2 linked regions of the Homo sapiens genome follow. Changing the gene in region 2 together with the main gene of any one other region gives a genetic interaction. Each region holds a gene or a part of one and is shown on either strand. Other genes may lie near its edges.

Evidence for each region. A genetic interaction does not mean that the proteins touch.
Region 1: changes in HDAC8 (region 2) and TBL1XR1 together harm fitness less than expected from each alone (positive genetic interaction), as found in Homo sapiens cells (one large-scale study listed by BioGRID).

Annotation. Positions count from the first base shown.
Region 1 is NC_000003.12:177,187,483-177,190,982, reverse strand, and holds part of TBL1XR1 (F-box-like/WD repeat-containing protein TBL1XR1), read left to right. Parts: intron 1-3,500. UniProt on the Homo sapiens protein: F-box-like protein involved in the recruitment of the ubiquitin/19S proteasome complex to nuclear receptor-regulated transcription units. Plays an essential role in transcription activation mediated by nuclear receptors.
Region 2 is NC_000023.11:72,570,044-72,574,019, forward strand, and holds the start of HDAC8 (histone deacetylase 8), read right to left. Parts: upstream 2,801-3,976; 5' UTR 2,719-2,800; coding exon 2,608-2,718; intron 2,067-2,607; coding exon 2,014-2,066; intron 1-2,013. UniProt on the Homo sapiens protein: Histone deacetylase that catalyzes the deacetylation of lysine residues on the N-terminal part of the core histones (H2A, H2B, H3 and H4).

The DNA of each region.
Region 1 (3,500 bases), on a different chromosome or scaffold from region 2:
CTGACTCAGGATATTTCTTCTCTGAGATTCCATTGCACTTAATGAAGATCACAAATCCCATAACTGTTTATTGTTTTGTTGCCCCAACTACGATGTTTCTTGAACGGATGGACCTTTTTCCTTCCAGCATTTGGCAGAGTTCTTAATACCATTTTCATGTTAAAATGGATTGTGAGGGCCTGTGTTAAAATGGGAGCAGTGACAGCCCTGTTCCACTGTAATGTGGCAGCATCTTCTTTTTGAGTTAGACCTTAAAGATTTAGGTGTGCTATAGTCACATTTAACTGTTCATTTAAATTTTAGTGCTGCCAGAGTTGCAAAGGAAGAAAAATTTGTTAGTTTCTTAGATGAAAATGGATGGTTTTGACTGGGTACGGTGGCCCACGCCTGTAATCTCTGCACTTTGGGAGGCCCAGGCAGGGGGATCACCTGAGGTCAGGAGTTTGAGACCAGCCTGGCTAACATGATAAAATGTTTAGCTCTACTAAAAATACAAAAAATTAGCTGGGAGTGGTGGCACACGCCTATAATCCTAGCTACTCAGGAGGCTGAGGCAGGAGAATAGCTTCAACCCGGGAGGCGGAGGCTGCAGTGAACTGAGATTGCGCCACTGCACTCCAGCCTGGTCAACAAGAGCATCAACTCCGTCACATACACAAAAAAAGAAAATGGATGGTTTTGCCCTTTTAATTCTGGAATAGTAGCCACAGTACTGGGGGAAAACCTAGTCTAGTTAGGAATTGTGTCACAGTAAGTTGACTTTATCTGGTTATATATGTGTCAGGTAGTTAGGTATAATGATGCTTAAGATTTTGGACTCTTTTTTTTTTTTTTTTTTTTTTTTTTTTTGAGATGGAGTTTCACTCTTGTTGCCCGGGCTGGAGTGCAATGGCACATGCTTGGCTCACTGAAACCTCCGTCTCCTGGGTTCAAGCGATTTTCCTGCTTCAGCCTCCCCAGTAGCTGGGATTACAGGTGTCCGCTTACACGCCCAGCTAGAACTTTATTTTCTTAATCTGTTAGGTTTTTTCTTCATTATTTCCTTAGTAGTGTACCTAAGTTAAGATAGTGTTTTTAGATCTCACTGTTTTACAGCATTCTGACTGCACTGGAGTTTCATTTGAGCCATTACTATTAATTTATTAACATTCAGTATAGGATATATGTATTATACAATGTAAGTGAGTTTTATCTACCAGAAGAATGTCTCTTAACCATCTCCCTTCAGTAAATTTTTATGGTAAGACTGTGCTGTATTAGTTCCAGCCAACCAGGGTAATTGACTATAAAGGCAACTAATTTGGTGTTACATCCTTCTTTTTTTTTTTTTTTTGAGATGGAGTCTTGCTCTGTCTCCCAGACTGGCTGGATGTGATCTCCGCTCACTGCAACCTCCGCCCCCTGGGTTCAAGCGATTCTCCTGCCTTAGCCTCCCAAGTAGCTGGGATTACAGGTGCTGGCCACCACGCCTGGCTAATTTTTTTGTAATTTTAGTAGAGATGGGGTTTCACCATGTTGGCTAGGCTGGTCTTGAACTCTTGACTTCAGGTGATCCACCCACCTTGGCCTCCCAAATTGCTGGGACTAACAGGCGTGTACCACCACGCCCAGCTAATTTTTGTATTTTTAGTAGAGATGGGATATCACCTTGTTGGCCAGGCTGGTCTTGAACCTCTGGGCCTTGTTATCTGCCCACCTCGGCTTCCCAGAGTGCTGGGATTATAGGCGTGAGCCACCACACCTGGCCTGAAATTGTTATTTCTTATTTTTATTTTGAGACAAAGACTCATTCTGTTGCCTAAGCTGGAGTGCAGTGGCATGATCTTGGCTCACTGCAATCTCCACCTCCTGGGTTCAAGCGATTCTACTGCCTCAGCCTCCTGAGTAGCTGGGACTACAGGAACGTGCCACCATGCCCGGCTAATTTTTTTGTATTTTTAGTAGAGATAGGGTTTCGTTATGTTGGCCAGGCTGGTCTTGAACCCCTGACCTCGTGATCCACCCGCCTCGGCCTCCCCAAGTGCTGGGATTACAGGCGTGAGCCACCGCACCCGCCCAAAATTTTTAATATTTATGTATAGAATGTAAGCTTTTCAGCATGATTTTGAATCAAACAAAATGAGTTAGATTGAAAGCTCTGCTTTCTGAGAGCTTAGATTTGTAACTCAGAATTAGTGTGGACTGTAAGGATCATGCTGAAAGGTTAATACATTTTGGTAAACATAGAGTACCCAGATTCAGGAGATTTATGTGAAATGAATAGGTTTGAGGGATGAGGGAGGAGGAATACCTGTTGAACATTTAAACTGTGAAGTTTGCCACCTATTTTCCCCTTTATTGAAGGTTTCAGGAGGTAGAATTTAAAAAAACAAAACTCTGGGCTGCAAGGGTCAGAGATGGTCATTACGGTATCTTAATAGAGTAATTTCTTTTTTTTGACGGAGGTTTGCTCTTGTTGCCCAGGCTGGAGTGCAATGGCGCAATTTTGGCTCACTGCACCCTCCACCTCCCAGGTTCAAGCAGTTCTCCTGCCTCAGCCTTCTGAGTAGCTGGGATTACAGGCATGTGCCACCACACCTACCTAATTTTGTATTTTTAGTAGAGATGGAGTTTCGCCATGTTGGCCAGGCTGGTTTGAACCTCTGACCTCAGGTGATCTGCCCACCTTGGCCTCCCAAAGTGCTGGTGGGATTACAGGTGTGAGCCACTGTGCCTGGACAGTAATTCTTTTTTATATGAAATTGTATTCTCTGGGCCGGGCACGGTGGCTGATGCCTGTAATCCCAGCACTTTGGGAGGCCGAGGTGGGTGGATCACGAGGTCAGGAGTTCGAGACCAGCCTGACCAACATGGTAAAACCCCGTCTCTACTAAAAATACAGAAATTAGCCGGGTGTGGTGGCATGTGCCTGTAATCCCAGCTACCTGTTAGCCTGAACCTGGGAGGTGGAGGTTGCCATGAGCTGAGATCGTGCCACTGTATTCCTGCCTGGGCAATAGAGCGAGACTCCATCTCAAAAAAAAAAAAAAAAAAAAAAAAGGAAATTGTACTCTGGACTCTCAAGCTTTTTTTTTTTTCTTTTTAAATGTTTAAAAATTTTAATTACCTTAAAATGGTGGATTTTTTTTTAACTTTTTAATAAACTAGGTGTCAGTCTATTTGATATCTTCGGTATTTTGTCTGAGATCGGATGTGGAATCAATAAGTGCTTTTTTTCCTGATAACCTTTTGTGTTTCTCTTTTCTTCTCATTGTGTCTTTTTCAGCACAGTGGAGAGCGGGACATTGTAAAGAGACATTCAGTGACTCAGTTTTTGAGTGGATGCTTTTGTTTTTTGTTCTTAGTTTGCATCTGCTTGAATGGGGTAGCATTTTAACATGGGTCTAATATTAAGCAAACAAGTATTTTTAAACCAATTCTTTGTAAAGCCATGGTTACATGAGTAAATCACTTAGCTTCTATAAATGTCTATTAAGATGATCAGATGAAATGTTACCTGA
Region 2 (3,976 bases):
ATGAATACGACTATACAGGCTACTACTATCACCAAGGTAGCTGGAAGAAATCCTGTGGTTTGGCCTCAAAAGTGAAATACATAGCCAAGACCCAAGAATTCTTGCTTCTTCTTAAAGAAGACAAATCTATACCACCAGAGGTGAAAAATCTACCCATTAAAATAAAAATTTTGTAATATCTCGGACCGTATTTCCCAGTCCTAAAAGCTCCCTCTTCTAGTACCCTTCCATTTATTTTGGTAAATGTTAAAAAACACTTACTGAAAACCTCCCTATTTAACAGTAAGCAAACTGGACAGTTTTGCTTTGCTTTGATATCTTGTTTGTCATAAAATAATTTTTTGAAATGTTAAATAACTTTAATGGAAGGCATATAGTTACTATGTTAACCAAACCATATGGGTTAAAAAATGGCTTAAAATGGGTGTGGTGACACGTGCCTGTAGTCCCAGCTACTCGGGAGGCTGAGGCAGGAGAATCGCTTGAACCTGGGAGGCGGAGGTTGCAATGAGCCGAGATCGCGCCACTGCACTCCAGCCTGCGCGACAAAGCAAGACTCCATCAAAAAAAAAAAAAAAAGGCTTAAAAATTCCCTTTAAAAGGTACAAAATGATTTTGTTAATAATAAGGATAAAATCTGAAAGCCTATTATTACACTACCTTCTGGGAGATAAATGAAGCATAGCACACTAGTTGGTATGAGCACTCACCTATTTGGCCAGAAATTGTCATAAGTAATCCTATATGTGGCAGGGTTATATTTGCTCTTATAACGACATCAAATACAGAAATGGCAATAAACAGCAAGTTCATGTTTTTGGAAGAAACAGTTAGCTCTCTCTTGAGTTCTGGCGCAGTCTTGGCAGTTTTCTTTGGTCTTTTTTGTTTGTTTGTTTTTTGAGACGGAGTCTCACTCTGTCACCCAGGCTGGGGTGCAGTGGCGCAATCTCGGCTCACTGCAAGCTCCGCCTCTCGGGTTCACACCATTCTCCTGCCTCAGCCTCCCGAGTAGCTGGGACTACAGGCGCCTGCCACCACGCCCGGCTAATTTTTTGTATTTTTAGTAGAGACGGGGTTTCACCGTGTTAGCCAGGATGGTCTTGATCTCCTGAGCTCATGATCCGCCTGCCTCAGCCTCCCAAAGTACTAGGATTACAGGCGTGAGCCACCACGCCCGGCCTTCTTTGGTCTTGATCTGTCTCCAGCCTCACCCATTAAAGTTTGGTGCTGGTGGTGGGTTGTCTAAAAGTCTTAGGTTGAACTCACACCCTCAAATCTGGCTTAGAATGAAACGAAATCAAAAGAAAAATGGAACACCTCCTAGCTGAACACCTTTTTGTATGAGACAGGTTTTAATACCCAAATGTACTCAAAATCTCCACAATGCACTGCACCTACCCCTGGGATACTTAACCAAGCAATCGAGCTGTATTTCTAATGAACCTTAACTGCTTCCTGCACTTTCCACTCCCCTGTCCCAAGTTTTCTTTTCTTTTTCTTTCTTTCTTTCTTTTTTTTTTTTTTTTTTTTTTTTTTTTTTGAGACGGAGTTTCACTCTTGTTGCCCAGGCTGCAGTGCAATGGTGCAATCTCGGCTCACTGCAACCTTCACCTCCGGGGTTCAAGCGATTCTCCTGCCTCAGCCTCCCGAGTAGCTGGGATTACAGGCGCCCGCTACCACGTCCGGCTAATTTTTTTGTATTTTTAGTAGAGACGGGGTTTTGCCATGTTGGGCAGGCTGGTCTCAAATTACTGACCTCAGGCGATCCACCCACCTAGGCCTCCCAAAGTGCTGGGATTACAGGCGTGAGCCATGCTCTCGGCCCCCCAAGTTTTCTTAATTCTTCAAGAGCTTTCTTGGGATTACAGGCAGATTACAAACACTGTGAATACTTTCACAGAAAGCTAAAATAATTTTTTCAAAAGACCATTCTTTTCCTTGCCCCACTGTGAAGCAGGATATTAAGGCTACGAACACCTAGCTTCAGGGCTATGTTCAAGAAAGACAACTTACCTCATCTGCTTATGCAGTGCATATGCTTCAATCAAAGAATGCACCATACTGGCCTAAAAACATCAGCGTAAAAAAAAAAAAAGAAAAGCAGAAATAGTCTCTTTAAAGTTTAATTCAGCAAAATCCCCGTCAATCTCACCATCCTGAACAAAGGAACGGATTAATTTTGTTTCAACTGGCTTCCCTTCTGTTAACAGTTACAATACACTTTAGACAATACAGATACAAAGTATCAAAATCACTAAGGTGAAAGCTACCGGGCCTTAGGCAGGTGATGGAACACCTTCCCCCTGCAGCTTGTTTTCCCACGACTTCAGCGGTCCCCTATGAGTGGAAACTGCGTCCTCTCCCCTCCTCCGTACCCCCTCCCCCACTCCTACCTGTCCATTGGACGTCCCGAAGAGACATGCTGCGCTCTCAGAAACGATATGAGAACACTTCCTTCTGATACAGCTTTAGGTATCTGATACAGCTACTCGAAATTTCTGAAGATTTCCCCCAGCCCAGTGTCCTCTCCGCTTCCTAACGCTCTTTCGTCCACCGCCCCCACCCCCACCCCCAAAGCCCATGGTCTTTCATCCCGACTTCCCTTACCCGTTTGGGGATCTTGGCCAGGGAGTCACACATACTGACATACTCGGGACTATAGATATAAACCGGGACCAGCGACTGCCCACTGTCCGCCGGTTCCTCCGGCTCCTCCATCTTCCGCTTAAAACCGTTCCGCAGCCACCTTCCAGATCTGGCTTTTTTCGGACTCGGCCAGGGTTCCAGTTCCTGCTCCTCTGATCGGCCGCAGCGGTGCTCCCTGGTCAACATTCCCTCCTATTCTTGAGATCGCCGGAGACACTATCACCGCTCCCCATCCTATTGAAGGAATGGATGGGACTTCCCAGACCAGACTCCCCTCATTTAGTGACCACAGTTCAAGGAAAAGGGTTTGGCAGATGTAAAAGTCCAAATAGCTGTCAATTAGGATCGATTGTTTTTATGGCACAAATAAGTAGGGTCAAAACTAACCATCCTTGTTGCCCTACGGGGCCATTTGAGATGAAGTCAGACCAGTTTCACAGCATGCTGGGAGATGTAGTTTCCGGAGGTTTGAGCAACGGAAGAGCCGGGGCTAAACACTAAAATAACCGCGATTTTTAGTTTCAGCGCTAAGACCAAAAAAAAAAAAAAAAAAAAGTAGCCTCAACTCTTTATGAATTGTTTCAATCTGCAAACACATCCATTTCATCCATTTAACCATATAAACACAGATAGAACGTGGCCACCTAGAGCCCCCACCATCCAGCTACATCAGCTGCCTATCCTAAGGATAGGCTTTTTTTTTTTTTTTTTTTTTTTGGTGGGGGCGCTATTTAATGGCACAAATGGTTTGAAAAGTTTACACAGTAAATTCTGTGATGCAATTTTATAGTTCATTTCTTTTCATCATTAACTATCCATGTCCACATGAGAGTTAACAATCTCAATAATTTACTCTGGCAAATCTGATAGTACTTTCCCAAGAGACTGGCTGGTGCAGTGGAAATTGCTTGGTAGATTCCGATCAAGCAATGATGTCAAATGTAACTCCTTGAACATTCATGTGGTAGGAAGGTTGCAAGCAGTGGTGTTTGGAAACTGCAGCTCTTCTCCTCCTACCTCCTCTTGTTTCTGCAGCTAAACATAGATTAGGGAAATATTTTAGGTTTGGTGTGAGGGTCCAGTTTAAGACTATCTGAGGCGGTTTTAGAATTACCATCAGCATTTGGAGGTTCCTGGAGGCCCCTATGATCTGATACAAGCTGGCCAGTGCTCAGGATCTTAATTCTCATGGCAACCTAAACTGACTGACTAACACCACTGGGACAACCTAATATCCTTACTATATTTAAAGTCTGGCTTGCTTTTTAGACTTTAAACATTTATTGAAGATTGTGACATGCACATTGGCCATATTATCTCATTTCATCCT